Homo sapiens: one gene and its partner. The gene in region 1 interacts genetically with each later gene. Each region holds a gene or a part of one and is shown in the gene's direction. Other genes may lie near its edges. The genes, in order: RNF139 and SREBF2.

Evidence for each region.
Region 2: changes in RNF139 (region 1) and SREBF2 together harm fitness less than expected from each alone (positive genetic interaction), as found in Homo sapiens cells (one large-scale study listed by BioGRID).

What each region holds. Positions count from the first base shown.
Region 1 is NC_000008.11:124,481,135-124,484,956, forward strand, and holds part of RNF139 (E3 ubiquitin-protein ligase RNF139), read left to right. Parts: intron 1-2,125; exon of another isoform or gene 2,126-2,273; intron 2,274-3,822. UniProt on the Homo sapiens protein: E3-ubiquitin ligase; acts as a negative regulator of cell proliferation through mechanisms involving G2/M arrest and cell death.
Region 2 is NC_000022.11:41,867,558-41,871,379, forward strand, and holds part of SREBF2 (sterol regulatory element-binding protein 2), read left to right. Parts: intron 1-1,053; coding exon 1,054-1,235; intron 1,236-3,331; coding exon 3,332-3,478; intron 3,479-3,822.

The sequences.
Region 1 (3,822 bases):
TAGAAATGTTTTCTTTATAATTTATCAAGTATACCAACAGATTAACAACATTTCAAGACACTTTGTTGTAAACTTCATTGCGGAAGGCTCCCTTGGGAGTAAGGTAGTAGTAACATTTATTTCTGTGCTTTTCCATATTTATTCTGTCAGGTATTGAAATGTTTTTCCACAGGTTGCTTTTTGTTTTAGAGGTATTTCGGGTACTTGGAGAATTGTAAATATTATGTTTTGTACCCTGATTTTTAGTCATAAGTTTCCAAAAGAGGGTAAGGGTATGAATAGACTTTACACATAAAAGAGTGAAACACTTTGTTATGTAACATGTATAGTAAGTTTTTATTTTTTCTTTTGTTTTTATTTGCCTGTTTTTGGTAATCCAAATTGAAAAGGCCTGAACTCTTTCATGAGTTGAGTTCATATATAGTTTCAAAGTTCCTGAATTGATTTGGATACCTGCCTCTTTTTGGCTACCTTGAAAACTCTAGTGAACTCTCTTAATCACTGGAGAATTGGACTGAGATCTCTGAGTTGTGATTTCAGTAAATTCTGTTCTCAAAATTTTTTATAAAGCAGCATTTATATACAGTCTTGATTACTTGTGCAAGTCACTTCCAAATCCTAATGAGAAACTGTCTCTGGACTTTTATATTTTCTTAGACCTACAGTTTAAATACCAAGAAAGGCTTTCATGTCTAATGTAAAAATGCAGTGAAACTTTGATATTATTCTGCAAAGGCCATGAGAAAGATGATTACTTTGGAGACTTGTTACTTAGGATATTGGTTTTTAAAATGAGAGCAGATTCTTCCCAAATTCCATAGGTAGGAACGTGACTATAAAAGGAAAATCTATGAACCCCATATACCTACAAACTTTGGGTAGGAATTAAAACAAACATATACTATTCTTGAAATGTTAACTCACTATTACATCTTGGGGGGTGTGATTTTAATCAGGATAGAGTATTGTCAGATTGTTACTTGCTGGGATACATCCAAATTTTGAGGTTGTAGTCTTACTACATTATTTGTCTATCTGATGCCTTCCCCTTTTTTTCTTTGATACATTTGCATAAAGCAAAATGGCACTTTTTCACTAGAAATGTTTCTAAAACCCAAATAATTTCTTCATTTGTGTGTAGTAAAAACAAGCTTCAGGAAAAAAGTTATTAGAATTTTAAAAATTAGTTATAAAATTATGGCAAAGCTCATGAATAGTTACTGAAGATTAATTTACTACTTTGTGAATAGCAAGTTGACAAAAATAATTTACAGTTCCTGCTTGACTTTCTCCCCTCTAAGTGGCATAAAGTAGAACTAGAGTTATTTTGTTTTGGTTTTGACCCAACTTAGAAGATTTGTTTTAAAGTTTCTGAAGTTTTGTCTCAGGAAAATAAGGTGGTTTTCCATGTAGAGAATGTAAGATTACATATGGCATCTGGTAGGCTGAATTAATTCCATTTTCTTGTTACCTTCCATGGAAGAAGTTTCTAATAAAAAAATCTTTTCAGGGCCGAGCGCAGTGGCTCACGCCTATAATCGCAGTAGTTTGGGAGGCCGAAGCGGGTGGATCACCTGAGGTCAGGAGTTTGAGACCAGCCTGACCAACGTGGAAAAACCCTGTCTCTACTGAAAATGCAAAATTAGCTGGGAGTGGTGGTACATACCTGTAATCCCAGCTTCTTGGGAGGCTGAAGCAGAAGAATCGCTTGAACCTGGGAGGCAGAGGTTGCAGTGAGCCAAGATCACGCCATTGCACTCCAGCCTGGGCAACAGGAGCGAAACTCCATTAAAAAAAATATAAAAAAAAATATATATATATATAATATATATATATTATTTAAATATATATATATTTAAAAATATATATATTAAAAATATATATATATATTTAAATATATATATATTTAAAAATATATCTATTAAAAATATATATATATTATTTAAATATATATATATTTAAAAATATATATATTAAAAATATATATATTTAAAAGAGCCTGTTCTGAGCTCACAACTCTTTGGGGGATTATTAGTGGCCCATTTTCTTGGGGAATCAGGTGGTTTGTATTTAGAGGTTTATATGTCTTCTACTTTATTGTGTCCTTTTGTTTTCCTTTTCACAGATGACTTGACATTTTGGCACAGAATACATTTTAAATCCCTGGACAGAGTCATCACTTAAATGAACTAGCCCTTGCTTATATGTGCAGTGGATTGTGAAATGCGTCTACTGTAATAATATGCAATGTCTTGATTACCTGCTGAAATAAGGTGGATAGATGGATTTTTATTTTATTTAATATTTATTTATTTATGTATTTTGAGACAGGGTCTCACTGTCACCCAGGCTGGCATGCAGTGGTGCGATCTCAGCTAACTGCAATGCCTCCCGGGTTCAAGCGATTCTCCCACCTCAACCCCCTGAGTAGCTGGGAGTACAGGCACGTGCTACCACCCTGGCATATTTTTATATTTTTGGTAGAGACAGGGTTTCACCATGTTGACATGGTCTTGAACTCCTGGCCTCAAGTGATCCACCCGCCTCAGCCTCCCAAAGTGCTGGGATTACCATTGTGAGCCACCACACCCAGCCAAGATGGATTTTTAATTTGGAGTTTGTCACTTTTTCTGTACTCCAGGGTATGGTTTCTCATTGTCTGAAACATAGATTTTATTTTTCAAGCAGGCTATATTTTGTGGTTGCCTTTAAAAACATCCAGATGTGACAGACATTTCCTAATGAATACTAATTGTACTTATTTTGTACAAAATATTGTAGAATCCATAGATGGACAGGGTAGGATCTTTGCTTTCTGTTATAGATACATGTGTAATAGGGTAGATTATACTTAGATAACTGCAGACTACAATATCAGGTGATATATGAGTGTTAAATGTTTCACTAAGTTCTGCAGGTATGCTGAAAGAACAGTTTCTATCAAAGAAAGTAGGTTTCTAGGATAGGTAGGATTTGAATAGTCAGGGATTGGGAGGTTGGGGACATCATTCCAAGCAAAAAGAATGTAAACACTGCTGTAGCTATAGTGGAGAAAGGAATGTGTTTGGGGAATCCAAGTCTGGAGCACTGATGTGTGTGTGTTAGGAGGAATATTACTGTAAAGCAAATTGGGTTCTTGAATGCCAGGAGCAAGAATGTAGATTTTAGTTGATAGTAATTTCAGAGCCGCTGAAGTATTTTGAGCAGGGAATGAAGAAAGGCAATTTGGTGATGGCTTGTAAATGGATTTGGACAAGATGAGGGTTTTTTGAGACAGACTGATTGATTGGTGTCACAGAAAAGGGAGATAGAGGTGTTAGAAGAATTTGGCAACTAATTGGCAAAGTTTGAGCATGTGGGGCTGGGTTGGGAGTATCTCTAAAAGAACAATAATGGTACCTTCAACTGAAATAGCAAATCACAAGGAAAAGCTGATTCTAGTTTAAGGCAAGTCGAGTTTCAGAACTTTGGAGATTTGCAGTTGTAGGAGTGAAAGTAGGTGAGTATTCAGATGTCATTCCCATTGTTGAAACCTTGGATAATAATGTGTTTATTGTAATCCTACTTAAAATATGCATTTCTGTCAGAGTACAAAGAAAGATGGTGTCTATGGAGTGGGGGAAGGAGAATTACCATTTTCTAAAAACATGTCTTGGTTTTCTGAGTGTTACTTTTGTAATGTGAAGAACAATAAAAAGAGTTGACTATTTTAAGAAACAGATTCAGCATTATACAGGAAAAAGGGAACTTGGAAGATGTTTCTAAGTCCGAAGGAAACTAGGAGGAAAAAAAATGGAATTTTGGACCCTTTGGAGAATGCTC
Region 2 (3,822 bases), on another chromosome or scaffold:
GCACTTTGGGAGGCCAAGGCGGGCGGATCACGAGGTCAGGAGATTGAGACCATCCTGGCTAACTCAGTGAAACCCCATCTCTACTAAAAAATAGAAAAAATTAGCCGGGCATGGTGGCGGGCGCCTGTAGTCCCAGCTACTCGGGAGGCTGAGGCAGGAGAATGGCGTGAACCCGGGAGGCAGAGCTTGCAGTGAGCAGAGATCGTGCCACTGCACTCCAGCCTAGGCAACAGAGCGAGACTCCCATCTTAAAAAGAAAAAAAAAAATCCAGCAAGCATAGTAGACACAGGGCCATTCTGATAACTAGTGGTGGAGACTTGAATAAGGCTTGAAATTGGCTAGGCGGCAGCCAGATCTCAGCTGCCACAGTTGAGAACTATTCATTCAGCAAACATCTGAGCATCCACTATGGTGATGAATATGACTTTTAATATAGGTGCAGCAGCTTCAAGTAGCAAGCCTCATGCTGGGCCCTTAGTATGTGTTGAGGGAATGGATGACTGAAAGGGGCCTGTTCTTTCTGTGATGTGCTGCATCCCAGTGCCTTTTCATCATATTTCCCTCTGACTCTGTGGGGAGCCCAGGGTAAGATTAGTATTGCTTTGAATTTCAAAGAATCTTATAGTTCTTCAATGGAGTTCAAGAATTGGGACAGGTGGGGGAATGTAAAGGCAAAAAGCTGAGACAGTCCTCCCAAAGTGCACTTGCCGTCCAGAAAGGATGGAAGAAAATGAAGCCCCAGGGAGTTGTTGATTCTCAACATCTGTTAACTCCCTTGCTGGGTGCAGTCATTTGCTGATTAGCTTCCCTTTCCCCCACCCTGGCACCCAGAGTAATAAAACAATTTGTACTCGTTCCCTCAGAAATTGATGCAGCCCTTATGGGATGTTCTTGTTGTCTAAGCCACCTTGTAAATGGCTGTGCACATCATCTTCAGCAGTAGGTGGGGAGTTGGAATCATTATGAGATACTCCATCCTCAGGTTTCTGCTGCAGCTGCAGTGACAGAATGCATTCCTCATCTCTGTGCCTTCTTTCTCCTCTTCTCCCAAGTCCTTCAGCCTCAAGTCCAAAGCCTGGTGACATCCTCCCAGGTACAGCCGGTCACCATTCAGCAGCAGGTGCAGACAGTACAGGCCCAGCGGGTGCTGACACAAACGGCCAATGGCACGCTGCAGACCCTTGCCCCGGCTACGGTGCAGACAGTTGCTGCGCCACAGGTGCAGCAGGTCCCGGTAAGTGGCTGGAAAGGATTCAGGGAGGCACTGGTTGGGGCTGTTAACTGGTCCTTGGTTGAAGATGTGGTCTACATACTAAGAAGGACCAACCAGAGTGTACACAAAGCAGCTTGTAGGGCGCCAGGATGCACCTGTGAGCAGCGTATAGTGACCTGGCTGAGTCCATATCTGTAGATAGACACTGGCACTCAGGAAAGGCTGGTGCAGTCACTTACGTACACATGTAATGGGCATAAAACTGGAAAGAAATGTGCTAAATTGGTATTTCCCAGATAATTTTCTTTTTCATAGTTTTGTGTTGTGTTTTTTTGTTGTTGTTGTTGTTTTGAGACGGAGTCTCATTCTGTTGCCCAAGCTGGAGTGGAGTGGTGTGGTCTCAGCTCACTATAACCTCCGCCTCCCGGGTTCAAGCAGTTCTGCTGCTTCAGCCTCCCGAGTAGCTGGGACTACAGGCATGTGCCACCACACCCGGCTAATTTTTATATTTTTAGTAGAGACGGGATGTTGGCCAGGCTGGCTTGAACTTCTGACCTTGTGATCCACCCGCCTCGGCCTCCCAAAGTGCTGGGATTACAGACGTGAGCCACTGCCCTTGGCTTTCATAGTTTTCTGTTCTCCATATTTTCTGCTGTGGATCCTGAACATATATTGGGTTGGGGGGAGGGGGGGCATGTATTATTAATCTTTTTTTTAATTTTTTTTTTTTGGAGACAGTTTTGCTCTTGTTGCCCAGGTTGGAGTGCAGTGGCGTGATCTTGGCTCCCTGCAACCCCCGCCTACCAGGTTCAAGCGATTCTCCTGCCTCAGCCTCCCAAGTAGCTGGGATTACAAGCACCTGCCACTGCACCTGGCTAGTTTTTTGTATTTTTAGTAGAGATGGGGTTTCTCCAGGTTGGCCAGGCTGGTTTTGAACTCCTGGCCTCAAACAGTGCATCGATCTCGGCCTCCCAAAGTGCTGAGACTACAGGTGGGAGCCACTGTGCCCAGCTGGGGGACGTGTATTATTTTTATAATCACAAAAAACGTCTTTATGTTATATATCATCGTGGACTATATCCTCTTTTTTCTTTTTTTTTTTTTGAGAGTCTTGCTCTGTCGCCCAGGCTGGAGTGCAGTGGCACGATCTCGGCTCACTGTGCAACCTCAGCCTCCTGGGTTCAAGCAATTCTCCTGCCTCGGCCTCCCGAGTAGCTGGGATTCCAGGCACGCGCCATCACGCCCAGCTAATTTTTGTATTTTTAGTAGAGACAGGGTTTCACCATGTTGGTTAGGCTGGTCTCAAACTCCTGACCTCATGATCCACCTGCCTTGGTCTCCCAAAGTGCTGGGATTACAAGCATGAGCCACCACATCTGGCCTATATTTTCTTACTAACAATTTATCTTAAAAAAATCAGGTTTATTATTTTTGCTTCTCAGCCATGTGTCTGGCTTTCCTGAGTCTTTTCTCTCCTCTCTGCCATCCACCCTACCCATCTCTGCTCTGCTCCTGCTGGGCCACTGGCACCACCCTCTTGAAAGTCTTTCAACCTAAAAACCCATGACCTGGCTGAGCACCATGGCTCACGCCTGTAATCTCAGCACTTTGGGAGGCTGAGGCAGGTGGATTTCTTGAACCCAAAAGTTCAGGACCAGCCTGGGCAACATGGTGAAACCCTGTCTCTACAAAAAAATACAAACAATTAGCCAGGCATGGTGGCACACACCTGTAGTCCCAGCTACTCAGGAGGCTGAGGCAGCAGGATCACTTGAGCCCGGGAGGTCAAGGCTGCAGTGAGCTGAGATTGCACCACTGCACTCCAGCCTGGGCAACAGAGAGCAACCCTGTCTCAGCAAAAAAAAAAAAAAAAAAAAAAAGCCAGGACCCTCATTAGCTAGCCCCTCTTTCTCCACCTGAACCCGGTATTCAGGCTGTACAAAATAGCCGGCTTTTGAAATGGCCTCTATGAAATTTCCTGTTCATTTTTTTATTCTCAATTTCATAAAAATTATATCATTTCTCATTCTTTCTTGGAAGGTCTATGCAGTAAGAAAGGAATGCATAACAGAAGGATAATGCTATCATCCTTTTACTTTTCTTCCTTCTTCATCCAGGTCCTGGTCCAGCCTCAGATCATCAAGACAGATTCCCTTGTTTTGACCACACTGAAGACAGATGGCAGCCCTGTTATGGCTGCGGTCCAGAACCCGGCCCTCACCGCCCTCACCACCCCTATCCAGACGGCTGCCCTTCAAGTACCAGTAAGAGCTGCCTTCTCCCCCACCCTCCTCCCTCCCCCTTTATTCCTGGAGGTGTTAGTCTTCAGAGATGTTAAATCTCTATATGCTGAGTAGGTATGGGAGGGTCTATAGCACAAATCAGTCAAATTGTAAATGTCACCCCTCTTAGTTGTTTTTCGCTCGAAAAAGTATTAGCAATGTGTGTTCGATGTGGGAGTACTGGAGTCTACAAGGAGGTAGAAAAGAATAGCAGAAGGACCCTCTATTCTTGGCTAATAGCTCCACACAAGACCATTCACCTCTTAGATCCTGCTGATGACTTCTGAAGGACCCTAGGGCCACCAGGCAGGGAAGGGCTCCAAGGT